Linked DNA regions of Homo sapiens: region 2 is linked to region 1. Evidence: fine-mapped expression QTL. Tissue or cell type: whole blood. Region 1 holds a variant in brackets; the other region holds the start of a gene. All regions are shown on one strand. Distances are between the middles of the regions.

Region 1 (15,419 bases):
CCAAGGGAATGGTTTGCTTCTTGGACTCAAATCTCTTATTTATATCCTTGGATAAAATAGGAAGTCAAGAAAGGCAACTATCTTTTCTCCTTTTCCCGGCCTTCTGGTGTAAACAAAACCCATAAACCCATTCTTCCCCTATCTGATTATTTCATGGTAGGCTTTGAGTATAAAACACGATGAATGAGGTATGAGTCACCCTTGGCCATTCAGTTTGGCAGACATTAGGGAGTACCTAAATTGTATCAGGTACTGTTCTAGGATTTACAGATCAAAACATAATTAATCTTGGTTCCTGCCTTTGAGGAGCTTATCGTCTGGTTTGATTAGGCTGAAATGTAATTTGAATTTCAATACAATGTATTTCTTAGGGTTTTTAGATCTTTTGTAGTCTAACGTGATGAGCCTTAAAATTACAGTTTGTGCAGGTGCAAAATAAAGAGACAAACAAAATTACACGTCCTTTCCTTAGGGCTTGCTGTTCCTTTTTGCTGATAAACTAGGCTCCAGGCTGCATCTCCATTCATCTTCAGAATTTCACTTCTAGCTCTGGATTGGAATGGTAATGAAAGCAGACACTCTAGGATCAGAAGAGGAAATATTTTACAAGGTGGAGTGGGTTAAACGATAACTACTTTTGGCAGAAAACATTTTCTTTTTTTTTTCTTTTCTTTTTTTTTTTTTTTTTGAGACTGAGTCTCGCTCTGTCACCCAGACTGGATGGAGTGCAGTGGTGCGATCTCGGCTCACTGCAAGCCCCGCCTCCCGGGTTCACGCCATTCGGGTTCACGCCATTCTCCTGCCTCATCTCCCCGAGTAGCTGGGACTACAGGCGCTCGCCACGCCCAGCTAATTTTTTGTATTTTTAGTAGGGACGGGTTTCACCGTGTTAATCAGGATGGTCTCGATCTCCTGACCTCGTGATCCGCCCGCCTCGGCTTCCCAAAGTGCTGGGATTACAGGCATGAGCCACCGTGCCCGGCCGGCAGAAAACATTTTCTAGGTGGCATGTGGGATTTGATGCCTTTTCAACCCTGAGAGAAATGCTAGTTCCTTGTTACTCAGCTACTGTGTTTTAGTTAGAGGCCTAGTGGTTGCCTACTGAGAAATAAAGTTTTATTTGAATAGTTAAGAGTTTACATTTCTTTCTCAAAAGTAAAAAGGAAAGGCTGGTATGTAAATTGTTAGGTGTTATAGAAATTTATAAGTTAAATTAACTGCATTTTTGTTCCTGCAGATATAAGGTGGTTGAACTCTTTTTCTATCTCACAATGGGATTCTCTCCAGCCTTGGTGGTGACATCAATGGTAAGACATGGCTTCAGAATTTTAGTTATTTTCTTTTAAGCTGCTGGAACTTAACATGATTATGGATATGATATGTAGCTTTTCTTTATAAAGTTATGTCCATTAAATAGAGGCTCAAAAGAAAAAGAACTTATAAATAATGAAGTGTTTAGCTTGGCATGGTGGCATGTGCCTGTGGTCCCAGCTACATGGGAGGCTGAGGCAGGAGGATTGCTTGAGCCCAGGAGGTTGAGGCTGTGGTGAGCTGTGTTCATGCCCTACAGCCTGAGGAACAGAGCGAGACCCTGTCTCAAAAAAATAATAAAAATAATGAAGTGTGCCAGCAACTCGTAAGCTTGCACTAGGTACCGTGTACAGTTTGGGAAAGCTATAAATTCAGGTATGTTTCTGTCTTTATGGTACTTTCCTGAATCAGAACCAGAATAGGTTCAGAGAGGTATTTTTCAAATCCCTTTACTCTTACTTTTCCTTTCCCTTGCTTTTAAGTCGTAAGTCAAGCACTTTTTTTGTTTGTTTGTTCTGTTTTCTAAGGCAAGCACTTTTTTTTTTCTTTTACTTTGCTTGAAAATATCTTTTGGGGATTTTCGTGGGTAAAGTGTAACATTACCTGTAATAGGCAGTTGCATGTATATATTTGAATTCCCTTTCAAATTGAATTACTGTTGAGAAGTCTGTGTGTGTCTGTCTTTTTGAAATGAAAATATATTATTACGACTTCATGGTTCCATCCACCTGGTTACCAGCCCTTTAGCTTATATATTGCAGTATCTTAGGCTCTAGGCACTATATTAACTAAGGAGGTCCCAAGGTGTTTCGTTTGAACCCTTCTGAGCCTACATTGTTCAGAAGAACTGTACTTAGGATTTCACTCCTAATCTCATAGGCACATTGTAAGAACCTTTTTTTTTTTTTCTTTTTTTTGAGACAAAGTCTTGCTCTGTTGCCCAGCTGGAGTGCAGTAGAGCGATCTTGGCTCACTGCAACCTCCGCCTCCTGAGTTCAAGTGATTCTCCCACCTCAGCCTCCTAAGTAGCTGAGATTACAGATGCGGGCTGCAACCCTTGGCTAATTTTTTGTATTTTTAGTAGAGATGGGGTTTCACCAAGTTGGCTAGTCTGTTCTTGAACTCCTGAGCTCAGGTGATCCACCTGCCTCGGCCTCCCAAAGTGCTGAGATTATATGCGTAAGCCATCACGCCTGGCTGTAAGAACATAATTCTGTGATAGTTTTTTTCCTGGTCACAAAAACACCTATAAAAGGTTTAAAAGTTTCAAATCTGGTTCTGTTTTTTCAGGGGATGTCTTCATGAGAATATAACAAAATATATTTCTTTGAGATACGAGGTTTATGATGGCTTTAATAATTACCTAGCACCCAAAATACATATAGATGGTAAAAGCAACAGGGAATGGTAAGGAGGAGGAGTTAAAGGACAGAAATGAGAAAATCAGCCTTGAAGGCCATATAGTTAGAAGGCATTTCAGGACACCCCAAGCAATATAAGCAAGGTTTGTGCAGCTTAATAGAGTAGAATTTCAAGCAAATTCCCTCTGGGTATCATAAGAGCAGGTTTATCCAGTAATTTTACTAGCCTAAATTTGAAATTGACATTTCCATAAGTGGTACAATAGCAGGTGACTAATGTTTGTGATAATCAAGCAGGATGATCCCCCACACTGCCTTCATAGAACTTAGAGTCAAGCAGGCAAATGCAGTTCCTATTAAAGAAAAAGAGATCATGAAATTTGATAAAATATTTGATGGGGGAAAGTTCAGGCTGCTATGCGAACATGACAGAAGTACCAGAGGAAGTGATATTTCAGCTGATTTGGAAAAACATGTAGAAGCTGAGAGATGGTAGGGGTGAGGCAAGTGTTACAGGTAGAGAATACAGCATGAAGGAAGCCCAGAGAAGGGGGAAGCACCAGCATCTTTGGAGAAATGAAAATAGCTCATTGTTTGTAACATAAAATACATGTACCAGCTTGAGTTATGTACATATGCATGGTGGGGGCAGGTATGCAGGTAGCACAAGTCTTGTAATAAAGCTGGAGAGCTAGACAAGAGTCCAGATCACAAAGGACCTCAAAAGCCACTAACACAGTAACAGAATGAATGAAAATGCGAATCTTTGGTTCTGGCCAGAATCATGGGTCTCAGACTTACCCTTCTGCCATAAAGAACTGTAAAACTAGAAAAAGAATAAAGGCAACTGTTTTTTTGGCTCTGAACCCAAACAGTACAGGACTGTGATCCTTGAAGGAAGAGAAACCAAGAAAATGAGCTTTGAATTCACCCCAGTAGTTTCCCTGGAGACACTTTCCAAACAGCAACAAAAGGAGGTAAAGCCCAGAGAACAGCAGCCTGGGTGGAGGAAACAGAAATTACAGTTCAGGTTACTGACATGGCTGCAGTTTGTGGGGCAGGGTATGGAAGAGGAGGAAGCCGCTCAGGGAGGATGCTTCAGAAATCCATGAAGCAGTTTCCGTGAGTCGTTGTCCAGATATCAAGCTGAATGTTGTACGGGCCAAAACTCTGCAAGCTCCAGTTGCAAATAACTCTTAGAAGGCTGGAAGATAAATGGAAATTCCGGACAGTTCCCAGTGCTGAAAGACATTGAAGTTCCAACCAAGCAGAGTTCAGAGATGGTGCTGGACATCCCAGGCACTCAGCTGACCCTGCCAAGGCCACAGCTTAGGAGTAGAGCTACTCTATCCCTAGAGGGAGGGCTACTCTAGAACTGCCATAACAAGGCCCAGACAAACCTTGAAAGGATAAAATTGATCCTCCAGTAAATAAACCGCCTAACAGAACAAAACTCAACAATTTTTAAAGGAATACAACAGAATCTTTACTGTAACAACTTAGCATGTACCATAAGTAAATATTATCAGAAATAAATCAATAATAATGTAATAAAATAAATAATAAATATATAATAAATATTACCAGATGGGCAAGAAACTGGAAAGTGACACATACCTAAGGGAAAACAGATCAATAGACACAGATCAAAAGACGGGAGAGATACTGAGATTCACACACAGGGAGTTTAAAACAGATGAGGAATCTCAGAAAATACCTGGAGACTATGAAGAAGAATCCACATGGAGATTCTAGATCCGAAAACTGTGATGTCTTAAGAAAAAAAAATTATTGGAGGGATTTAATAACAGATTGGATATTGCAGAAGCAAAGTTCAGTGAACTTGAAGCCAGGTCTGTAGAAACTATACAAACTGAAGCATGAGAGAAAAGAGTGATTTAAAAATGAACAAAAGAAGAAAGAAATTGGGGCAGTTTTTTGTTTTGGGTTTTCTGTTTTACAGTTTTTCTTTTCTTTTTTTTTTTTTTTTTTGAAGAAATAATAGTTACAACTTTTCCAAATTTGATGAAAAATATCAACCTAGAGATCCACAAAGCACGAGGAGGCCTGAGCAGTATAAACACAAAGAAAACTACACTAAGACACATTAAAGTCAAATTACTAAAAAACAAAGGCAAAGACAAGACCTTAAAATCAGCCAGAGAGAGAAAAAAGAGCAAGGAGAGAAGATGACCACTGACATTTTATCAGAATTCATGGGAGCAGGAATACAATGTAATGGCACATTTAAAATGCTGAAAGGGTCCGGGTGCTGTGGCTCACGCATGTAATCCCAGCACGTTGGAGGCTGAGGCGGGTGGATCATGTGAAGTCAGGAGTTCAAGACCAGCCTGGCCAACATGGTGAAACCCTGTCTCTACTAAAAATACAAAAATTAGCTGAATGTGATGGCAGAACTCCTGTAATCCCAGCTACTCGAGAGGCTGAGGCTGAGGCAGGAAAATCGCCTGAACCCAAGAGGTGGAGGTTGTAGGAGGTTGTAGTGAGCTGAGGTCGGGCCACTGCACTCCAGCCTAGGCAACAACATGAGACTCCATCTCAAAAATAAATAAAATAAAATAAATAAATAAATAAAATGCGGAAAGGAAAAAACAAAAAAACCCTGTCAACTTCAAGTTGAAGTTAGCACAGTTTAGTAATATTAATGTCAAAAATTTAACCAGGGAGGCCAAGGCAGGCAGATCACTTGAGGTCAGGAGTTCGAGACCAGCCTAGCCGACATGGCAAAACCCGTCTCTACTAAAAATACAAAAATTAGCTGGGCGTGGTGGTGGGCACCTGTAGTCCCAGCTACTTGGGAGGCTGAGGCAGGAGAATCACTGGAACACGGGAGGCAGAGGTTACAGTGAGCCAAGATCGTGCCACTGCACTCCAGCCTGGGCAACGGAGCAAGATGCTGTCTCTAAATAAATAAATAAATAAACCAGGATTGCTAGAAATGATGAATTTGTATGTAAATACATGGCTGTTTTTCATTTCTTAATTTCTTCACAAGATAACATGGGGGTTTCTAACATGTAGAAGTAAAGTACATGGTAACAATGGATGGGGTGGAGAAATAGAAGCACATTGTTTTAAGGGTCTTAACCTTGTATAGGGGGTATAATAATAAAGGTACATTGTGATGAGCTAAGGATGCACACTGTAATCCGTAGAATAACCACCACTGGCCAGGCGCGGTGGCTCACGCCTGTAATCCCAGCACTTTGGGAGGCCGAGGTGGGTGGATCACGAGGTCAGGAGTTCGAGACCAGCCTGACCGACATGATGAAACCCCATCTCTACTAAAAATACAAAAATTAGCCAGGTGTGGTGGCACACGCCTGTAATCCCATCTACTTGGGAGGCTGAGGCAGGAGAATCCACTTGAACCTGGGAGGCGGAGTTTGCAGTGAGCTGAGATCATGCACTGCACTCCAGCCTGGGCAACAGAACAAGACTCCATCTCAGAAAAAAAAAAGAATAACCACCACCACCACCAACAACAACAAAAGCAAAATAAATGTTATAGTTAAGTAGTCAAGAGAAAAGATAAAATGGAATCCCAAAGTTATTCAATTTAGTCTAAAGCAGGTGGGAAAATTGGAAAACGGAAACAAAGGATGGATGAAACCAAATAGAAAACAGAGAGCAAGACGGGAGGCTTCAATACAACCATATCAGTAATTAGGTACCTCATATATAATAACAATTACATCACAATGGACTGAACACTCCAACTAAAAGGCAGAGATTGTCAGACTGGATAAAAAAGTTTTCTCATCTGTATAATGGAGATAATAGTACCTAATTTAGGGTCGTTGTGAAGATTAAATGAATAAATATATGAAGTGCTTCAAACAGTGCCTGGCACATAGTTACAATAATGATAATGATAATGAAAAAAAAATTCTGTTTTGATACAGAATTAACTATGTTCTAGGTCTTTGAAAGTTGAGGTAAATGTGGTATCTTGAGGATACTAGTTAACAGAATGCATGTCAAAACTAACCTGCGTACTTGGTTTGGTGTCTTGCTTGTTTTGGCAGAAAGGAAAAAAAAGGATATTTTGTAACAGTGACTGGCCATGTGATTTTGTTCAGGCCACTTCACTGCTCTGGCCTTAGTCTCCTCACCTCTGCAATAAGGGGGTTGTGTTAGATGAGTGACTCTTACTATTTGGGAGTCCCTGTGCCCCTTTGCGAATCTGATGAGAGCCTTACCCCTATCCTAGAAGAGGGCTCCTAATACACACACAAATACTTTTGTATAATGTGTATTCATTGCTGTATAACCTTGAGGAATTAATAACGTGTGGTATTTTGTCTTTGTTTTTACTTTTTAAATAAAAATAAATCTAGCTGAAGTCCTTTCTTACCAAGGTTAGGAAGAAATCCAATGTCAGTCCATTTGGATTGGCTCCTTCCCCATCTTTTGATCCCACACAAAACATGGGGGCTTCTGTGAACTTTGAAAAAGGACTGAAGCTCACAGCTGGCCCTAGATCCTCACACCTGGTCCTTAGCTCATGATGGTCTATTGTTGCCTTGCTTTTAGCCGAGGGCCTTGGGGCCCATTCTAATCAGGTGCCTGAGTTAGAGCTTCCCTTTACTCTTGCGGGGCACACAAGGCTGCTGCCCAGTGCCCAGGCCTCTAGGACACCCACACACCTATCCCCTTCCAAGGCCCTGCCGTGATCTGCCTTAGGTTTCCATTCACTCTGCAGAACCTGTCTCCTTTCTATTCCTAGTCCTCAGAAATCCAGGGGACTAACTTGTTTCTTCATCAGCTTCTAAGCATTGCCTCTATTCTCTCTCCTCATTCATACAAGCCATTTTAATCTTGTAGATGGGCCTTGGTCTTTGAAAACCAAGAACAGCCTAAAAAATTCTCCCTTCTGCCCTAAGACACACAAGAATATTAACTTATTGCTAAGCTAAGCAATGGCCAGGCTCGAATACAAAAAGGCCTGGAGACATCTAGAAGGCTAGGAAATATCTTGTACTATGTGATCTGTGATTTCAGAGGTCACTTCTAGTTACGGTTTTCCTGTGTCAGCCTTAAGGAATCTATAAGCTCACATAAGCAGGGGAAGTCTCAAAGCAGCAATCAGTGTAGAACAGTGTTTGAGAAGGACAAAGGGAAGTAAATACCCTGCCTGAGATGTAAATTATAAATAGAGTGGCTTGGGCCTGCCTTAGTAGGGAAGGAAGCATTTAAAGGGGAAGATGAGAACAGAGGATTGCACTTTATTAAAATGAACTCCCATGTCTGGCTATGATTGCAGTTTGCTTAAATATGCTGTAAATGAGCAGAATGTTCTGCTTTTTCATTTGGGACCTGTAATGTGATTGCTTGCTCAACTCAAGAGTGTCAGTCCAAAGGGCAATCCAGGTCGATGTATAAGAGACTTTTTTTATGTTTGGTTCATGTTTACAGATCAGGATTGTGTTCACACAGCTTCTTCATTGTCTAGAAAATCAAGAGCCTTAGAGAGAATTACAGTTATCTGTAGCTTGCCATGCAGAGTAACATCAAACCCTTTTTATTTTTTTTTCTCTGTTGACAGAACAACACCGATGGACTTCAGGAACTTGCCTGTGGGGGCTTAATTTATTGCTTGGGAGTTGTGTTCTTCAAGAGTGATGGCATCATTCCATTTGCCCACGCCATCTGGCACCTGTTTGTGGCCACGGCAGCTGCAGTGCATTACTACGCCATTTGGAAATACCTTTACCGAAGTCCTACGGACTTTATGCGGCATTTATGACCAATCTGTACTAATTCTCCAAACCAGTATTATTTCAATTATGGCACTTGGGAGTGGGGTGAGAGCTAAACATTGCACAGGGAAAGAAAAAAAATAACTGCACTGACTTTATATCTTTTGAATATAATTACTGTGAAAGTATAAAGGCTGTGTTCTGGAATTTTCTGCCTCACAGCAAATAAATAAGGTAGTGAATTAATTATTCATTCCATTCCACTATCATGAAGGACTCTGAATAGACTTGGCCAACTGATGTTTACAAACCAGACTTTTATATTTTAATTTTACAGATTTTACTACATGATTTTTCTAAATTACTATGTCAGGTTGTAAAAGTCAGTGCAATAACAAACCTTCCTTTTTAAGAAGAAAATTGTTTCTATTACTTTCCCATTCACTAGGTAAAGAATCATGGACAGAACTTACACTACTTTTT[A/G]CCATGTTTCATCTTGGCATAACATGGTTCTTTTTTAAATAGAAACTTTAGTTTTTTGTAAATTTTTAAAAAAATATTTCATTGATATGCATCTCTGCAGGTCCTCATTCATGTTGTAAATTTTTGCAGCAAGCAGTCAACATTCCACAAACGAACAAACATTATACCTCTTCTGATAGTTTTATTAAGCATGGAGAAATTGCCAATTTTTAAAAACTGCAGTTTTCCAAACTTTTCTGCCAACCTCTTACTCTGAATTCAGTGCTGCTTTGGGACATATACTTGACCTAGCTTGGTTTACCAGTGATGGAAAAGTATTTTGATATCATTAACTTTTTCAAAAGATCCAACTTTTTCTCTATGCCTTTGCCACATTCTCTTCAGGGTCTCTTTCCACAGTGGATAAATGTTTTTTCTGTATTATGACAGTATTGTTGTGATGGCCATCTGCTGGAAACTCCTGAAGAGCATTATGTATTACAGTGAGCAGTTGTATTGCCTGTTTGGTGCCCAATGGTTAAGTCATTGTCACTTAGCTTTATATTGTCAGTTTGATATTTATTTTAAATTGTGGAACTAGATGCATAAATTCACATTTCTGCCTTTCCTTTGCATCTTCTCATATATTGTGTTTTTTTTTTTTTTTCCTAGAAAAAATATTTAAAGCATTGTTTGACAGGTAGAAACTCATGTATCTGTAGTCCATGAGTTATATCCTGGCTCAGTGGAGTGATATTTATGTATTATTTTTACTTTTCTCTCAGTGTCTTATATTAAGATTAACATGTTGTTAATAGTTGCTTTGTTGATTAATCTCTCTTGTTGGTGTTTTAATAAATGAAATAGGCTTGCCTTTAGATCGGGTGCTGATATTGCCTGTTTCCTAGTAATGGGCTGATCAAATGATCAGTGGAATTCTTGGTTTGATGATAACCTTATTAATTGAAATTTTTTACTGATGTGGCTTTAAAAGAGGTTTATTTTGTATATGTTTAGAACTCTCTGATTTTGATGAATTATATGGGAATGAGAAACAGAAGAAGTGGTATTTGCTGGCGAGTTAAATAGGCAAGGTACCCAGTGATAACACCAACCAAACCACTCCTATCTGCATGATTCTGAACATCTGGATGCCTGTTGTTTTACTGTGTATATTTTATTTTTAATATATTAACTTTGTGGATTCATTTAAGGTCTACTCAAAAGTAACACTGTCAAAACCACTAATATGTATGTAAAAATTGTGCTGTATACTACAATAAAGTTGTTACTTGGATTTGTTCCACTGTCTCTAAATTAGATGACTGTGAAGAAAAATGAATACACCCTGTCACTTAGAACTTTCTAGTCTACTTTTTAATAATTGAAATGCCAGAGTCAGCTCAAACATTAATCAACAGACATTTTCAGTTTAAAATACACTAGTCAGGACCTAATGATTTCAAGTTTTTTAGATGATGCATCCTTACCAAGGTAAGCCTTTTGGTTTAGCATATTTAATATTCTATAGGACTGAGGTGACAGTCTTTTATGTTACCAACCAGACAAGTAGCAGATTATAAATCTTAACAACTCTCCTAGTGTTAGATGCCATTCTACCTCTTCTGTAGTGTGGGAAACCAGGGCCAGAGAAGTTCAACTGCTTCATCCTAAATCAGGGAGCTGGAACAGCAACCAGCTCTATCTGATTCCGAAGCCTCCCATTGACTATACCACTGCATTTCTAGAGTCAGCAGAAACAAATAAAAAAACTTGAACTAAAAATTCATCAGGCATGGACACAGAAAAGAAAACACTATTCACATGGTTTAGAACCTCAATAATCCCTCAGATAACTCTCTGTCAAATCTAATTTTGAAGATTGAGTGTCTTGAAGCGTTATGATTCCCAAGAGTTCTGTCCTTTAGGTCACCAGTGTGACCTCATCCATTTCTAGAGTGTCCCCACTATTGTGCTGTCAGCTTCTTGGTCAGTATCTTCAGCCTTAAACTATTTTCTAAGGACTAGACCTCTCTCTAGTCAACTGCCTAAATGCTCCCAGACATATTGACTCAAACCGTCCCAAACTGATTTCATTATCTTTCCTCATCCTACCACCAAACCTATTTTCTGAAATTTCCTAACTTAGTTAATGGCATGGCCACAGCCATCTGTTCATTCATGCATCCTTGATTTCTTGCACCCCCCAGATGCAACAGGTCAGCCAGAACTGTCACCCCTGCCTTTCTCACAACTCCCTGGTCTGGTTCCTCACCTCTCTTCACACTGCAGGGTCCTAAAAAGACCTACTTAGCACTCATCAGACTACAGCAGCCACCTCCTCATTTGTATCCCTGCCACTGCTTACACCCCTCAAATGAGCTCATCCTCCACACTGTACCAGCATTATCTTCCCAAAATAAAATCTGAGCATGTGTCTCGATGCTCCAAAACTTCCACTGACTATTATCCTATAAGATTCACGCCAGATGCTTTAGCATGGACTCTTCACATGCTGACTCCGCCTGATCGGCCCTCTCCCCAGCTGAACCCCACTTGACATCAGCCCTGCTAGTGATTTTCACAGCCTCCCCCACAACACACATGCCCTCATGGTGCTTTTGCAGCTGTGTTTTTGTACCTGCTGTTCCTTGGCCTGGAATGCCCTTACTCCAGCCCCTTTCCTACCTGGCAAATAGTTGCTTATTCCAAGCCTTCATCAGGTGCCACCCATCTCCCTTGTGCCATTGACCAAGTTCCCCCTGGCATGAGTAGTAGTGCCCTCCTTTGACCCCATGGCACAGATATTCCTTCATGGCCCCTGTCATGGTGCATTGTGATTGTGTTTACTGTCTTTACCTCTGGTCTTGGGACTGACCTCCTTCAGGCAGGGACAGAGTCTCATCCACTTCTGTTCCTAGCTTCTAGCATAGCACTGGCTTATGACAAGAGTGAAGAAGTTTTGTTGAATGAAAGGGGCAGGGTCGGGGGAAGGTTGGAGAATGTTGCTGTGGAAGGGAAAGACTGAGAATAAAGCATTTTTTAGGACAGACTTTGGTTTTAGCAGGTTTATCCTGTCCATCACAAGCACTCTTACTAGCTGGAAACTGACTTTTAGCTTCTTAGGCCTTAGAGGCTTTTTTGACCACAAGGGTCAGCTAGAACATTCGTGGCAACCACAGGAAAGTTGATGAGAAAATAGAGTGTAAATATTAGAAAATATGTCCTAAAGAAGAAAATGTCCAGCATTTTTATTGGTGCTTTCCTAGAAATAACAATTTACAAAATTATTTTGAGAGAAAAAAGTATTTGGCCTAACGTATTTCCCTCTGGTCCTCTTTTCTGAATATAGTAATAAAATAAAACAATTGTGCAATCATTGGGTCTTAGTGCAGATTATACTCCAGAAGCAACAACTTAAATTTTTAAAAATATTTTGAATATTTTTACTTTAAAAATCATACAGCTATATAAAATCCTTTGGAAAATAGAGAAAGCTAAAAATTATCCAGCATTCATTTATCATAATATATTTTAATATACTTGCAATTTTTTATTTCCCTATTTTTATTATACAGCTGTAAATATGCCACATATGTAATTTTATATACTTTTTCCTACTTATTATAAGCATTTAAAAATACTATTATATTGGCCGGGCGCAGTGGCTCACGCCTGTAATCCCAACACTTTGGGAGGCCAAGGCGGGCGGATCACGAGGTCAGGAGTTCAAGACAAGCCTGACCAACATGGTGAAACCCCGTCTCTACTAAAAATACAAAAAAAAATTAGCTGGACTTGGCGGTGCATGCCTGTAATCCCAGCTACTCAGGAGGCTGAAGCAGGAGAATTGCTTGAACCTGGGAGGTGGAGGTTGCTGTGAGCCAAGATCACACCACTGCACTCCAGCCTGGGCAATGGAGCAAGACTCCATCTCAAAAAAAAAAAAAACAAAAAACTATTATTACTATTATATCATTTCATAGCAAGAATTTTCAATGATTTCATCATCTTTCAGAACTGGATATGCAGCCTATTTTGCTTAATCATTTGCCTAATTTTGGATATTTAGATTGCTTTAGATTTTTTAATATAAACAATGCTGCAGTGAACATACAGCTTCGTCCATATTTATGACTGGGTTTTAAAGGTAATAATAATAAACAACTGACTGCTTCTTATGTATCAGGTACTCTGCTAGTTTACATGGATTATCTCATTTTATGTTTACAAAAAACTTATAGATAAATCATTTTCTTATTCCCATTTTACAGATGAGGAAACAAATACAGATGAATAAGTTTCCTTGCCCAAGGTAAGTGGCAGAACCCGAGTGAACCCAGGAACCCTAGAGGCTTTTTTCATTTTCAAGAGAGCCATTCCTGGGGCAAAGGTTTATTGATGGGTTTACCCAAAGGAAGACCTTTTAAAAATAGAGCTCATTTCCAAATCTCTACATTTATACTTGGTGTCTTCAGTTTATGTCTACTCTTCTCACGTGCCAGTGAGATGGAGAGTGGAATAGGAAAATCTCCAAAGGAAACTGACCTCGAAGAAGCTGGTTCACCTCCCTCCTTGTGCAGCAAAATAAAAGTTTCTCAAGGGGCCCCGAGGAATGTTTTTAGTTTAACAAGGTTAGAATTACTGCATTTATGTCTTTCTACTGCTTTTGCTATTTTAAATAGACAGTGCCAATATGTTCTTACATTCTGTGCCATTCCCACCTACATCCCTGCAATGGATTGGTGGTGTTATTTTTCCAAGAAACAGTGCCACTGTGCACTCTCGCCACTCTGCAAGGGGAGTTAAGCTATTCTCATCAGGGGCCTGTTCAACACAACAGAACGCTTTCTCATTCTGCCACACAGCTCATTATCACTCAGACTTTCACTGCAGTCAGACTTGTGAAGTCAAAATAGACTAGCAAGGCTTAAGGGGGGCTTGGGAAAGTAGGCTTTGGAGGCTTGCCCTATCTCCTGGGAGAGGTCACAGGTCCTTTGCTGTTCTGTGCCAGGCCACACTTAACACACCCGATCTACTGTGTCAGTCACTGAAAAGGTCAGGAAAACTTTTTGATCATTAGGATTTGGTTCTCTTGAAGTCTCTTAAAGTGTTTTTTGAATCCCATCTATGAGCTGCGTGTTGAGTCAGGGTGGAAGCAGACAGCCTGTGACAAATTGGCTGGGTGAGCTTCGGTAAGTTTGGTATTACTTTTTGAGCTTCAGTTCCTGTCTGCAAAAGGGGTATATCACTTCTCTTGCAGTGCGGTCATAAGGATTAAATAATATGTTGAAAGTGTCAAGTTTATACAGTCTGACATATGATTGACACTGGGTAAATAATCCTAGTGCTTCTTTCCCATATGGCTGAGCTTTTAAAATTATGATTACAGCCCACCTGGGGATATTTTTCATGCACAAACAACCTGAAGAACAGTTCAGTACCACTCTTAAAATTGTTCTGTGCATTTTCTAGCTCTTATAAATGGTTCTGGATCAAATGATGGCCGAGGCTAAACTGAGGCATGTGGTTACCCCAGCCTTTCTAATAATTTTGTGTCATTTTAAACAATGTTCTTTAAACATTCAAGTTTTTTTTGTTTGTTTGTGTTTTGTTTTTGTTTTTGTTTTTGTTTTGCGGAGTCTTGCCCTGTCACCCAGGCTGGAGTGCAGTGGTGCAATCTCGGCTCACTGCCACCTCTGCCTCCCAGGTTCAAGCGATTCTCTTGCCTCAGTCTCCTGAGTAGCTGGGACTACAGGTGTGTGCTACCATGCCTGGCTAATTTTTGTATTTTTAGTAGAAACTGGGTTTCACTATGTTGTCCAGGCTGGTCTTGAGCTCCTGACCTCAGGTGATCTGCCAGTCTCTGGCTCCCAAAGTGCTGAGATTACAGGCGTGAGCCACCATGCCTGGCCAAATATTCAACATTTCTTTAGACAAGAACATGAGTATTCATAGAGAAAGGGTAGAAAAGGAGGAGGCTGGGGCAGTTCTTTATGTCCAGATAGGAGCTGCATGCTTTGCTTAGCAAAACAAAAGGCCTTCAATACATTGAGCCCACACTCTGTCAATTTGGACAGCAATTTGGTCACCATCTGTGCACTCTCGCCAACCTGAGCATGCCTCCTGGGGGACTCACACCAACGGGCTCCTAGTGGCTTATTAAAGAATTCCTTCCAACTACAGTCGTTTAATGCCTTCTCCACCTTGTTTCTTTCCCAGTGATGTTGTAGGGTCCTTTATTCACACATTCATTCAACAGATGTTTATTGGGTGTTGCCTATGTGCCAGGGACCAGTCTAGGGACTGAGGATGTTATAACAGAAAAAAAAAATAGGAACAAAAAGGCCAAATTCCTGCTTGTTGCTCAGTCTAGATGATTCTCTGCCCCCCAACTTCCTTAATCTGGATTTGACGTTTTGGGGAGCTTTTGTCAATCTGTTTGTTGGCATCACACAGATAGATGACTGTGGCCAGTGAATGTGACAGTGTGCATGACCAAGTAGAAAGTGATGCTGATTTACCTGTCTTTTCAACAAGGGTCCCGTACTTTGTGTTATTC
Region 2 (14,861 bases), 23 kb before region 1:
CATTTAAACCTGTTTCTTGTGTTTTCTTTTTATCTTTTGTGGCTTGCTTTTACCTTGGGGGGGTAGGTTTCAGGAAAGATGAGGTTAATTTAAAATTGCGACCATATTTGTTTAAGTCACCTTTAGTTGATAGTCCAGCATTTCTGTGGAAGAGACCACTGTAGGTCAAAGTGTTTTATTTCATCTGATTTAATCTGACTTTTTATCTCATTCATTTCTTTTTCCTTGGGTAAGTATCATTCTCACTGATGTTTCCAAACTTAGGTAGCCTCTCAAAAGTTTTCCTTATACCAACCACTTCTCTTCCTTGTTCAAGCTGTTCTCCCAGTGGGAAAGTTTGTGCTAAGTGATACCATCCAGCATCTCAATCAAAATCCATCTGCAGACTTCCTTCTCTCTGGCACCTCTTCCTCATTATGCTCATCATACTCAGTTCACTTCTTATCTCTGCACATTCCTACATCACTAATAAGATGTGATCTGGCATCTGTTGGCTCATTGTGTTGTTGTCGTTTTGTTATTTTTTAATTAAGTTCATATGAATAACTTTATTGAGCACCTACTGTGTGTCAGTTTCTGTTAAAAGTATCCAAGAAATACAAACATGAATAAGACGATCTCTGTGCTCCAGATATTTCTATTTCAACCTTTTTACAGAAACTAAAATTTTTCAAAATCTTTTAACAACTTTATTAAGATAGAATTCCTATGCCATACAATTTACCCACTTAAAGTGTAGAGTTCAGTGGCTTTTATATATTCACAGAATTGTACGTCCATTATCACAATTTGAGAAAATTTTCATTAGACCCCAAAAGAACCATTGTACCGCTTAGCCATCACTTCTCAATCCCCTCCCATTCCCCTGCCCTAGGCAACCACTAATCTACTTTCTGTCTTTATAGATTTGCCTGTTCTGGGACATATAAATGGAATTTTGTATGAATGGAATCATACAATCTGCAGTTCTTTGTGACTGGTTTCTTTCATTTAACATAGTGTTTCCAAGGTTCATCCATGTTGTAACATATATCAGCACTGCCTTTCTTTCCTTCCTTCCTTCTTTTTTTTTTTTTTTTGACAGGATCTCACTCTGTGGCCCAGGTTCAAGTGATCCTCCCATCTCAACCTCCCAAGTAGCTGGGACTACAGGTGCCTACCACAACACCTGGCTAATTTTGTTGTTGTTGTTGTTAGAGATGAACTCTTGCTTTGGTGCTCAGGCTAGTTTCAATCTCCAGGCTTCAAGCGATCCTCCCACCTAGACCTCCCGAAGTGTTGGGATTACAGGTGCAAACCACTGTGCCTGGCCCTTTAAAAAAAAAAAAAAAAAGACTTTTTTTTTTCCAGAGAAGTTTTAGGATCACTCAAAAATTGAGAGTAAAGTACAGGGATTTCCCACACATACATAGCCTCTCCTGTTATCAAAATCCCCCAACAGTGTGGTACATCTGTTACAATTGAGCTTCCTTGTTTTATTTTTTAACCCTTCTTATGTTATTACACATGGCTATTTTTCATCTATCTTTATTAGCTATCTCCTTTGTTACCTTCCCCTCCCGCACTGATGTTTTAGCCCAGTGGCCCAACATAGCTGATAAGAAGCAGACTTTCATTCCAGGTTCATTTTCCCGATTTAGTGTTGAGGGTGCGGGTAGATGAAGTTTTGTTTTGTTTGTTTTGTTTTAGAGAAGTGTATTGCTTTAAAACAGGGAGAGATAGTCTGACGTACTGAAAGGAGGTGGGTCTTTAAAGTTAGCGAAAGGTAGGTAGGAGCCTTACTTTTGCCTTTGGCAAGTTTATTGACCACTATAAGCCTCAGCCTTATCTGTAAAATAAGTTGGATAATGCCCATCTGGAGGAGCTCTTGGGAAGATTGAAGCATGGAAAGCACCTCTCTGGAAGGTTCAAGGAAAGGGAACTAGAATTATGGGTGACAGAATTCCCTGGCTTTCCAATGCTTTACTGTAGGTCGAATGAGCACTCCTAGCAGGCTGGCCTCATGCCACTTCAGAGTCTCTAGCCTGCAGGCTGGGGGCTGGGTATGGACACGATACCTGGAAGGGAACACATATAACTTCCATCAGTGATCCTGGAAAGGCTCGACAAATCACCCATTCATTCATTCTGTGTGTATGTGTGTGTGTGTGAGAGAGAGAGAGAGAGACAGAGTCTCACTCTGTCACCCAGGCTGGAATGCAGTGGTGCAATCTCGGCTCACTGCAACCTCTATCTCCCAAGTTCAAGTGATTCTCCCATCTCAGCCCCCCGAGTAGCTGGGATTACAGGAGCCCGCCACCACTCCCGGCTAATTTTTGTATTTTTAGTAGAGACAAGGTTTCACCAAGTTGGCCAGGCTGGTCTCGAACTCCTGACCTCAGGTGATCCGCCCACCTTGGCTTCCCAAAGTGCTGGGATTACAGGCATGAACCACAGCACCTGGCCCATTCATTCATTTTTATTTGAACTTCTCTTCCAGGAAGCCCTCTGAGTTTAGGTTTAGCGACAGGACCCTGATTCAAGTCAACTCGTTTATTTGAAAGCTGCCTGGATAAAAATAAAATAAAATAAAAAATAAACTGGAGGATAACATAAAAGGATCCTTGCAGAGGATTCCTCCTTTTGTGGATCTCACTGAATCTCAGAGTTAGAAGACGCTCAGAGATCTCAACTCCCTCAAGGGTCAGACAAGGACAGGTTTTTCATTCTGCCCTGGATCCTCTCACAATAGCCTCGCGGGAGCTGGCCCTCAAAATGATGAAGGAATAAATGAAAGGAGGGATGGAGAAATTAATGATGAAGAAAAAATGAATGAGGTAGGGCTGCTTGTTTGCTGCTATTTTCTTCACAATGCTTTTAAGATTTCCTGGTCCATCTCCTCCTTCACCACTTCTCTCCCTCCCTCGATCTCTTCTCCAACTTGTCTCTTACAGAAGGGCGCCGCGTTCCCGCGCTCCTCCCCTTCCCCTCGCCCCGCCCCTCCCCAGCGAGGCCCCGCCTCGCTGCCCGAGCCCGGCGGGAATGAATGGCAGCGTAGCCGCCGCGCCGCTCGGGGTGCCGATTGGCTGACCGGCGCGCTGACGCGCCGGCGACCGCGGGTGCACGCAGGCGAACAGAGCCGGCGGGGGCGGAGCCGGGCTCCGGGGCGGGGCGCAGGAGCCCCGGGGCGGAGGAGCCGGGGAGGCGGGAGGCGGGAGGCGGGAGGTGTTGGGGCCGTTGAAGCGGCCTCCCTCCCGCCCCCAGCCGCCCGGTCTGGCCCCAGCCCTGTCCCGACCCCCGGCCTGGCCCACTCCGACCCTACCCGGCCGAAGGGTTCCGCTGGACACGCAGGCGGCCTCCGGAGCAGCCCAAGCCCATGAGGGCCGCGCGCCCGGCCGCCGGTGCTGACGAGACGGAGCTCCTGGCCCCCGAGGAGGAGCAGAGGATCAATGCGGTTCAAGAATCGATTCCAGCGGTGAGAGGGATGGCGTCCCGGTCCCGCTGCCCGTGTCAGAAGCGGGTTCCCAAATCCCGCCGTTAAGCGCACGGCTCCCGGCTCCTCACCTGGATTCATCCTGGGTGGATCCCGCACCTTGGCCAGGGATCAGTTCCCTGGGGATTCCCCACCCTGCTGTCCCTGGGCGATCCCCTTCCTCCAAGGATGGGAGCTCCTGCCTCACCCGGGTCTCCCCTCGCGATCTGCGGACCTCAGATGGATTCCCGGCCCCGGGACTCCAAGCCTGTCCTCCTTCCCGGGGATCCCTTTGCTCCTGGGGCTCACCCTCCCGACCCCCATACAGGCTGGGCTCTGGCTCTCTCTGGGAACCCGAACCCCAGCCCCGGGCACCGCCCCCGAGTCCTCCGACCTGGCTTTGGCCTCCATCCCTTTACCTCCAGGGTGGGGGTCTCCCGGGGCGCGCGGAACGGGGTGGCGCCCTGCGGAGAGATTTGTCGTAAAGCGGGGTGCTAGGCATTTTGGGTGCTTTGTGAACGGCCCTAGCAACAGGGAAACTGAGGCACGCTCCGCCAGCTTAGCCCTGCCTGGCCGTGTAGGGGCCTTGCTGGTTCTCCAGCTGAACGTCCCAGGGCGGTGCTATTTTTGGGCTCTGCGAAGGGGCATGTTAGCTTTCGGGTGGCGAGACCTGCTGTGGAGGCGCCGGTGTTAGGAAACGAGGAGGAGGAACCGTGGAGGCGCCACCGGAAGGCTGGCCGACTGCTCATTCACTGTAGAGCTGGTGGAAATGCCGGGCTGGGGGGCGCCGTGGCCTTACTCCCCTCTGGGGCTCCACCGTCTAACAATGGATGGAGGTTAGCCCATGACTCTGAGAGGAACTCCGGGCTTTTCTTTTCTGTTTAAGTGGGTGAAAGTTCACCTCTCCAGGGCATATGGTAACTGCATCCCTTTGTGTGAATTCCCGGACCTTCACCACCAGCATGTTTGCTGGGGGTGCAGTGACAGGGGAAATTTTAAGAAATGCATGAAATCTTCCAAGAAGGTTGTTGAGTTTTTAGACACTACCTTTTATTTCAGAATTTTAAAGTACACATTTTTTTTTTCTTTCCAATCTCCATGCCCTCACTGCCCTCTCACCCATCTCATTCCTCCCCCAGTCCCAAAGGGTAAAGGAGGCAACAAATGCACAGAAGAGTTGCCATGGTCTGGGCCACCAGGAAGGGGATCAGCTTGAAGACTTGGATTGACTTCTGAATATATTGCTTATCAGTCAGGGTGTTGAATGCTTGGCACTGTTCCCCCAGTGGAACTTCATACCGGTGTGTCTAAGGGCAAAATGGAACCGTAGTGTTCTGACTTTAGAACCTGATGTCAGAAATGAAGACCGGAGGGGCTTTTAGAGAGAATGTAACATGCACTCCAGTCATGATCAGTGAAGCCCTGTGCATGCGGTTTGATTTGGTTTTACTTCTCTACACGTCTGTGCTCTTCCTGTTTTCAGAGAACAGTGGCAATATTCTGTGAAATTGCCCCTTCCTTGTTTGATTAAGAGTTTGTCATTCTTACCTATACCTTTGGATCCTCTAAAAAGAAAAAAAACAAACAAACCCTGTTCAATTATTTGTTGCACAAACGTTAAAACTGTTAAAACAACAACAACAACAACTTCATTTAGGATGCTACCCTCTCAGCTTATTGAACTGACTTTTTAATTATTTTTGCTGGACACTGATCTCTCCATTCCTTATTAGCACAGTTGTAATGTGATTTTTGCGCTATTATTCACTTAAAAACTAAAAATACAGGTATTTTCTTTTGGTGTGGCATAGACTGTAATTTTCTTGGGGGCTTGTGTGTTTCTCAATGGATATTTAACAGTTTCTTTCTTGATGACATCTAGATCTACCCTGATTTTCTTTGAAGATTTGTGTGATCTCATAATTTCTTGGTTTTCTATCATAAGCTAGGTTGGAAACATAGTTCTAAGCATCAATTTTAACTTGGAAATAAAGCCTATAAACAAAAAGTAATGTAATGAGAATGTCCTGATTTTTGTGGTTCACACATTAAAATGCTGAGAGTAGTACTATTCTGCATCTTTTAATGCTGTGTTCATGATATATCTTTCTGAGCATTCCCAGGTAGGTAAATTGCAAAGGAACTGGAGGGAGAGACACACTGTCTTTGAAGGGAGACATGCTTCCTCCCTCCTGATAGATTTATTGGGACTGGATGGAGGAGCATGAGGAGGGTTTATGCAATGATGGCTTCTTAACAAACTTAGGATGTGAAAAATTTCACTGGAACACAGAGGCATATTTTATCTTCCTCATTTTATGTTTCACACTTGAGTATCCCCAAGATACCTACACACACATAGACAAACACAAAGTCATCCTCTCCCCTTCATAGCATCTCTGATTGATGGCAATAACTGCTAATATTTATTGAGTGCCATTTATCTATGCCAGGCACTGGCTGGGCACTTGTATATTACTCATCCTCAACTATAACTCTGGAAGACATAAATGTTATACCCATTTAATAGAAGAGTAAATAGGTTTAGAGAATGAAAGGGAACTTGCCCATAGTCACACAGCTAGGAAGGGGTAGACCCAAGAGTTCAACTTCATGTCTGTCTCTCAACCAGTCATGCTGCTAGCTCACCTCTTTCTCTCTCTTAACTCTCTGCCCACACCACATCTGTGTGTGGGCACACAGATCTTATAGGCATAAGATCCACAGAGCTCTACTGTATCTTCTTGTTGGTGTGTACTCATTTCAACAGTCTTGCAACCAAAAATCCAAGGAAAAAGAAGCCCTTTTCCTCAGCCCCAACCTCATGATCATGCAGCTAGCTTCAAAACTGGATATGTGGGAAAGCATTTTAATCTACAGTATTAGAAGTCTTACAGGGCTACCTATTGTCTTTTTTCCCATGTTCTTAAAGCACTAAATCATAGGCATGGGGTAGTCTCCTTATATATGCCATCTTCCTTTATTTAATAATTAAGTCAAGATTGGCACTATTGACAGTAGACACTTTTCCTGAACAAATATGCTCAGTCATAAAGGGGAGCTAATAGTAAGAGGGGTCCACTTATACGTTGCAACATAAATGATGTTGAAGGGGCCCTTGGAATATCCGTTGTCTTGGATTTTAAGTGTTTTTGTGTGTGTGTGAGATTCGGGGTTCTCTTGGTTCCAAGGCTGCCTGTTTCTCTTACTTACAGAACCTGCTGTGTCCACAGTAAAACTAATTGACTATGGGATATCTTTGTTAAGACAAAATAGTTCAGCAGTAGCTGGAATGTCTTTCTATTCATTCAACAATTATTAAGCTCTAGCAATAAGCTGGGCATTGTACTTCAGTTTGGTAATGGAAAGGTGAACAAGACAGCCTTCATGGAATTCACACTACAGTGGGAAAAGATGAAATAAAAAATAAGCTAAAACAAATCAAAGTCTTACCAATTGTGACATAGGGCTCTGGTTGGATGGGGAGGGTTGAAATGATACTTCAGTTAGGATAGTCTGGAAAACCTCTCTTGAGGAGGTGACATCTGAGCTGAGCTGAAAGGATGAGAAGAGAGCTGAGCATTCTGGAGAATATCCTAGACAGAAGTAAACAGCAAGTACACATGCCCAGAGGCAGACACAACCTTGATGTGTTTAAGGAGCAGAAAGGAGGTGGTATAGCCAGAGGATGGAGAGAGAGAAAGATGCCACCCTGAGACTGGAGGGGTAGTGAGGCCCAGACCACTCAGGGCTTGTGGGCCTCTGAACACTGTGTTACAGTGCTATCGTAAGCACTTTGGGAAGCCAGAGGCAGACTTTAAGCTGGGATTGGGGTGTGTGATGTGATCTGGGTTTTTTGTTGTTGTTTGTTTTTGAGACAGGGTCTTGTTCTGTCACCCAGACTGGAGTGCAGTGGTGCCATCACAACTCACTGTTGCAGCCTTGACCTCCGAGGCTCAAGCAGTCCTTCTACCTCAGTCAGAAGTAGCTGGGGCTACAGGCATACACTACCACACCTGGCTAATTTTTACATTTTTTTTTGTGTGTAGAGATGGGATCTCACTATACCGCCTAGGCTGGTCTTAAACTCTTGGGCTCAAGCAACCTCCCGCCTCAGCTCCCCAAAAGTGCTGGGATTACAGGTGTGAGCCACCATGCCCAGCCCCTCATCTGTTTCTAATGGAAAACTGTAGCTGCTATGTAAAGAAGAGAGTCTGTACTGGGTCAAGCAGGAAGACTAGTTAAGAGACTTTGTATTTGTACAGACCTGAGATGTTAGGTCTTTATTTAAGGTAGGAGACGCGGAGCTGGGATTACAGGTGCACACCACCACACCAGGCTAATTTTTGTATTTTTGTAGAGATGGAGTTTCTCTATGTTGGCCAGGCTGGTCTTGAACTCCTGACCTCAAGTGATGAGGTGGACTTATTTGAAATATATTTTGAAGGTAGTGTTGATGGTACTTGCACTCGGAGAATGAGGAACACTTGTGGGATTTGATCTACTGAGATCAGCCTCTGAGATCTGCTGGTGGGTTGCAGATCTACTCAGTGGGCACAGTGCTTTAGGTTGAATTTAAAGTGTGTTAGTGTGCTAAGGAGTGTTCCCAGGTCTCTGATCTGTTCTTTCCCTCCATGGTTTTGAAATTCTGTCATGGCATGGGAGAGGGGTATGGGGGAAGGAGGAGGTGATAAGAACGTTGGGCAAGGGGGAAGGCAGGAGAGTTTTGAAAGAGAAAGTGAAGGAATGAGTAAAAAAACTCTGCCTAACTAGTAGCTTTATTAAGTGCAGCTCCCACTCCCAGGACTGAATCACCTTCCTTCAAACCCTCTAGAGCTTGTTGGTTACTCAAGCATTGAGTAACCATTAGGGCCACTCCGCTTTAAATAGAGATGTCTTCCATAAATGGATGCTGTTTTCCATAACCAGCACTTGAACCTTTCCCATTCTTTTTTCGGGGAAGAGATGAAGGCCAGAGTGTGGGAGTTGATTTACATTTTACATCTGCTTTTCCATTTAGGTTTTAGGAGTGATTTCTTCAGGAGGCTGTGGAGGAGGCTTGATTGCACCCTGGCAGGTTAGAGAGAAATGGGAAAATTGTATTGTACTTTCCCAGCAGAACAATTATGCTGTCTATCCTACTGAGCCCCAGATTTAGAGAATTGCTTCCAGGATAGTTACCCTTATCTTTCCCTATTGCCCGTGTCTTACCCTGTGCATCAGGATAGAGTGCCTTAAGTCACCATGGGTGGGATATTTTTCTGTATAACTTTCTACTTTTATTTTTTAATGTGAATTATTCCAGGTGATCAGGGACTAAGCTGTCACAAACATGGCCATCCAGTTTATTTGTTTTTAGGAGAAAATGTGAAAGTCTATCCCTGTTGCTGGGTAATGGCTTGACTATTTTTAGATTGGGCTGCCAGAGATATAAATTGCTATTTTAGTCTGCAGCCTGGTGGTGGGTAGACAAATCCTACTTACTGCACCCTACACAGAGCACATTCAATTTCATCTAACTACAGCCATCTTGGGGCCTTGCTCTTTAGCCTTGAAAATTCCTAATAGGGTATGCTACTTATAGCTCTGTTGTTATGTCTCAGGACAATGATGTGGTATATCCTCCAATTCTTGGGACACTTTTAAAGCATTCTTCCCAAGAGTGTAATTATTTTCTTTTTTGCTAATAAGAGCTGTATAGCAACACTCTTGTCTCTTAGGAAATTAGTAAAATTATTTAAAATATTATCAGGGGAGAAAAGATGATGCTTAATAATAGTTAACTATATTTGAGAATAGCTTGGATAAATTTTGAAGCTACTAACTGTATATTTCTCTTTAACAGTTGGTTTTCAAACCATCTGGTAGATTATACTCAGTAAGTACATATTTTGTACACTAGTTAAATATCTTAACCCATCAGTGGGCCAAGTGAAATATCTTCACTGTCCCAAATTCATTCCCCAGTGGATTTTCCACCTGAACTATCTGTATTGTGTTAATAGTGGCTGCCACTTTATTTTTATTTATTTGATCTAACGATAACAGGCTCTTCCTAACTCAGGGAAAGAGTATTGGCTGGTCTTTTATTAATAAACTTGGCACTCTCTAAAATGGCTTGGTCATGCGTTTTAGCCAATTTTTGGCAACTTGGTTCTACCATTTGGTTCAGCCCTGTACCATTTTTTATTTTGTGTATGAATAAGGTAATGAGTAGTTAGAACTCATTAGTGGCACAAAATACCAACCCCCAACCCCCATTCACACTTCTTTAAACTAGCTTGAGCAAAAGGATTATTTATTGTGCAAAGCCTGTTGACGTCTTACAGACTCTTAAGCACAGGAGTGCAGTGGACCTCTGCAACCTGAATGCTGTTGAAATTTTTTTTTTTTTTTACGTCCGTCTGTTTCTGTGCATCTACCTCTTTCTTCTTTTATTCAGACAGCTGCTTTTTTCTCTCCTGAGAAAAAAAGGATTAATTAGACTAATCCAGAGTCCCTCATGAAACCTGTTGTGGGTATGGGTTGGGTTTTTGGTGGGGAGGGCATCCTCACTCAGCATACTGAAATGGAAGAATGCTATCCTCTCTTTAGGTTCTGTGGTATTCATGCTTTTCTCTGTACTACTGATGGTCACAAAGTTAGCCTAAAGGGAAGTGCGGAATATGGGCATATGTCTATATATGTAACAGATTTTGATATTTAGATACGTACACACATTTGTGTGTATATATGAATTTTATAGCCAAAAGAATCAGGTAGTAGTCATGTGTTTGGTTTTTGAAGCAGACTTTTTGATTTCAGGAAGAACAAAGGTGAAAACATACCTCCGGTTTTAAGTTGCCTAGAGGTAGCCAGGTGTCATTTATTTAAGCTGTCTGGTAATACAATATAGGGAAACTAGTGGGACAGGCCTGTTAATCATGGGATGTAGGGTTTAAAGATGTGCCTATATAAAGCTTTATAAATTTTAAGAGAGAAAATAGAAACTTTGTTTTTCAAATGTAGTGTATCCCTTTTCACTAAATGACAATAAAATTTAGAAAAATTCGTTTTTTTTTTCTAGTTGTACCGTGTGTGTGTGTGTGTGTGTGTGTGTGTGTGTGTGTGTGTGTGAATGGAGGAGGAGGGTTCCAGTTGAAGGGGTGGATATGGTTTCTCTTTGCTTTTGGTTGTAGAAGTTTGCTTTTGGTTATGGAAGGTTTTTCTTTTGAATAAACTGAAAGAAGGCTTAATCTAATAAACTAGGGTATTTGCTTAAGGATCATTGCTATTGGCTCAGTTTACTCCTCTTTAGTGGCTTTGGCTTTATTACCGCAACTGGGTATTTCCACCAGTCACTTCTTTGCGTAGAATAGACCACATACCCACTGGTGGGTTTCCTCATTGTTCTTCACACACTTTGAGTTTTTCTTACATGTGTTCTTTTTGTTTTTACAGGTTCATGAACCATCGAGCTCCAGCCAATGGCCGCTACAAGCCAACTTGCTATGAACATGCTGCTAACTGTTACACACACGCAGTGAGTACAAGTTTTCCACCATTGCCATCCTTTCCACGGGGCTTTGGTGGGAGGAAGGGGTAGTTATCTCTAGTAACCTCAGCACAATTAGTTGGATTTACCCATCTGTGACCTTATCTACCAGGAAATCAGTTCTGGGTCGTGTCACCAGAAACTATGTAAGCATGTAGAATGCTTTGTGTGTTCTAACCTACAGTCAGCTCTGTCCTGGATTCGCTTTCTCCAACAAGATATTCTTTAAAGGAATAATAATAGTATGTACCCTAGTTATAGAAAAACCAAAGACACCTATTTATGAAGACTGTCACCCCTAGAATGAAATGAATCGCCTTTTCAAGACAATCAACTGTGTTCATTTGGCAAAGAGAGTTCACAGTTTGTTGAAAAAGATGCTTTTTAAAATTAAGTGATCCTCTGAAATGGGGAGGGGAGCCATAGCCTCCCACTCCTACAGTGGCCATTGCTTCCCAGAGGAGATGTTATTCCATATTGGTGAAGAAAAAGCCGATGTGATCCCTAAATTTTTTGTTAATTTTTTTCTGCTTTGTAAAAGCAAAACATGCTTATTATAAGAAACTTTAAAAATACTGAAAAATATATAAGAAAAACAAAACTAACCAGAAATAAACTGTTAACACTTCGGTGCATTTCTTTGTGTGTGTGTTTGTGTGTATGTGTGTGTGTATATGTGTGTCTCTGTGTTGGGGGTGTTTGTGAATATGTATGTATTTTCAGTTTTCCTGTTAATGTGACATTAATGGCATTTCTTATGTCATTATAAATTTTTTACTTTACCTGTGGTTTCATTATTCCCTTGCATTTAGTGACATTGAGGGAAAAATAGTGGCTGGGATACAGTCTGAAAACAAGAAATAGAGAAAAGACCAGTTTGCTTCTTTAACAATGAGTGTTTGGAACAGGCTAGTTTAACTGTGGTAGTCACTGTTGGTACAATACAATGGTTCAGATATTGAAACACACAGCTTACCTTTAGGAATAATATTTACTCGGATGAACCTGAATAAACCTTAACTTGTCTCTTCTGAGTGTGTCACAGGTTAAGGAACACTTGTGTAAACTTAAGTAAAGGGAGACCTGACAAAACCCCCATATTAATTTTTTTAGAACAGAAAATATAATCTTATTAAACCGTATCTTGAATTTTTGGATTTCAGGGACCAGTAATATTTCTAACACAGACAAAACACCCCTATTGTCATCATTTCATTGAAGAGAAGATACTTTAACATGAAAAGTAGTAAGGACATGATCTCAAGATAAAGGGCATTCCTTTAAATGAAATACATTTTGTTTTATGAAAAACTTTATTGTACTTAAATGTACTTAAATCCTCTGAAATAGGAAGGCGAGCCATAGACTCTCACCCCTACAGTGGCCATTGCTTCCCGGAGGAGATGCAATTGTATTTAATGTTCTAATTTTGCTTGGGCCAACGAAAACTTCAGCATCTGAAAAACTCATGCCAGTCTCATCTAGGGGATTTAATAGTCTGTTGCAAGGTGACAAATGTAGGTTTGGGGAGAAAAAAGATAAGCAAATTGCTAACATTTGTATTCTTTGTCAAGTATGCTTACTCTAATATCTAATAAAGTAGTTTATTCTCCTGGGAGCTTCTGTCATTGTAAGATGTTTACTAGTCATAGTCATACACATATGACTAGACATTAAAGTTTGTGACCATGTGGACTATGAAATATGATGCAGAAAGCAAATCTCTCTAAAATTCTCAAGATTTTTTGAATAGGTGGGCCTTGGAAATGGTTTGCTCTTGCTTACTTAAAAGGCTCTGTTAAAAATGAAGTGACCCCAAAACTCTTACATTCTGCAGTAGCTCTCAAATTGGTGGAATGTACAGATCCAAACTGAAAATCAGGGTATATAACTTCAACAACTGACTTTTTGTATGTGTGTGTTGCTATGTACATTATAATACCTATTACTTGATTTGTTCAATTATCCTGTCCTGAAATATTGAGATTTCAATTGCAATAGGACAGATATTTTAAAATGAGGACCTCCCTGAAAAATCTGAGTATATGCTTGGCTGTTTTTTGAAATGGGGTCTCACTCTGCCTCCCAGGTTGGAGTTCAGTGGTACAATCATGGCTCACTGTAGCCTCAACCTTTCAGGCCCAAGCAGTCTTCCCACCTCAGCCTGCCAAATAGCTGGGACTACAGGTGTTTGCCACCATGCCTGGCGAATTTTTTAAATTTTTGTAGATACAGAGTCTTGCTGTGTTGCCCAGGCTGGTCTGGAACTCCAGGGCTCAAGCGATTCTCCTGCCTCAGCCTCCCAAAGTGCTGGGATTACAGTCATGAGCTACCACACCCTGCCTGCTTGGCATTTGAATATTTTAAGTAATTACTCTAAATCAGATTATAAAGTAGAATGAAACATGTCCTTATTTAATGAAATTAGGATAAAAAAAAAAAACCATCTGTTTTGCAACAGCTGAATGATGTTGCATCCTTGATGGCTTAATTGTATCCCCACTGGTTGGCACAATTCCTGGACCCTGAGTGGTATTACCTGCTTTCCAGTGTAGCAGCTAACTTCATCTGGCTCTCGTTATGATTATCCAGGAGAGACAAATACTTGCTCTAAGATTATTTTACTAAAATTGTTCCTGGTAAAGCTCTGTATTTTTAGTAAAAGACTCAATTCCATAAAAGCCAGAATATTCCATTCACCATTCTTTATCTTTCCCTCAGTTCCTCATTGTTCCGGCCATCGTGGGCAGTGCCCTCCTCCATCGGCTGTCTGATGACTGCTGGGAAAAGATAACAGCATGGATTTATGGAATGGGACTCTGTGCCCTCTTCATCGTTTCTACAGTATTTCACATTGTATCATGGAAAAAGAGCCACTTAAGGTACAGTGGATGACATGCTGTTTCAACAGATCCAAATAGTTGACTCAACGTGTTTGGTACCCTTCCAAGCTGGCATGCTTTAGTCAAGTAGGGCAAAGAGTAGACATTTTTCTGCCTTGTAGACTAGAATACTATCCCATTATTCAGGACTTGTTCTTTGGACTGGATGAAGTTTTAGGACTCCTCCCCAGCAGGCATCTAAGAAGGTAGGCCTTTGCTCAGTAACCCCAAACAAAACCTAACTGATTCCCCAGGACTTACCACTTAAAAACCTGAGAGCTATTTTCCAGTACTATCAAGCACACTAAGGATATGATGAGAGCAGCAGCTATGGGGTAGTGACAAAGCACACTGAGCTTGGAGTCAGCAGGCAGGCTTTGAGGCCCAGCCCTGCTCTTTAATTTTGGGTAAATCACTTGACCTTGTGGAGCCTCAGTATCTGTATCACTAAAATGAGAATAATAATACCTGAGTCACACAGTCAGTGTGATAGGTGAATGAGATAAGGTACTTGAAAATAACTTGAAAATTACAAAAGACCCTATGAGTGTGTGAGGTATGAAGGTATACTTATAGTTTGCGTTTACCATTTTGCAAAGTTTAGCTTTCAGAATTAAGTCTTGTGTATATTATTCAAACAGAGTTCACGTATTTTGCTATTAATAGTCAAGCACTTTCAAAACAATACTATAGCTCTTGGCCTGCCAATGAGAAGAACGTAAACGCTTTCCTCCTCTGAGTGAAGGATTGATTTTGGAGCACCACACCATTTAGGTGGGAATGGTTTGCTTGTGAAATGGATTCTGCACAACCCTAAAGGGCAAAACTTCTTTTCAAAAAAGGAAGTTTCAGAGCAGACTATGAGCAATTTAAAGAAATACTCGAATATGCCTTTTGGTTTTAAAGAACGTCCAAAAAAAACTCAAACTATTCAAACAATCTGATATTTAAAATATATGCTCCTTTTACAAGCAGGATTTGAGATTTATGAGAT

The links. PIP is the estimated chance that this variant, and not a neighbour inherited with it, causes the effect.
Region 2: it holds the start of MMD, and the variant in region 1 is fine-mapped to the expression of MMD in whole blood (TOPMed, PIP above 0.99).

The regions. Positions count from the first base shown.
Region 1 is chr17:55,387,357-55,402,775 of GRCh38, reverse strand. It overlaps MMD (monocyte to macrophage differentiation associated), which reads left to right. Exons shown (of 7, transcript NM_012329.3): 6 at 1,238-1,307; 7 at 8,242-10,154. The coding sequence ends at 8,442. Among named protein-coding and RNA genes, the nearest start is that of MMD, 27 kb to the left of the region's middle. The variant A/G (reference allele first, on the strand shown) is at 8,879.
Region 2 is chr17:55,410,263-55,425,123 of GRCh38, reverse strand. It overlaps MMD (monocyte to macrophage differentiation associated), which reads left to right and starts at 3,289. Exons shown (of 7, transcript NM_012329.3): 1 at 3,289-3,454; 2 at 10,892-10,973; 3 at 13,707-13,867. The coding sequence starts at 3,429. RefSeq lists a silencer at 2,889-3,348.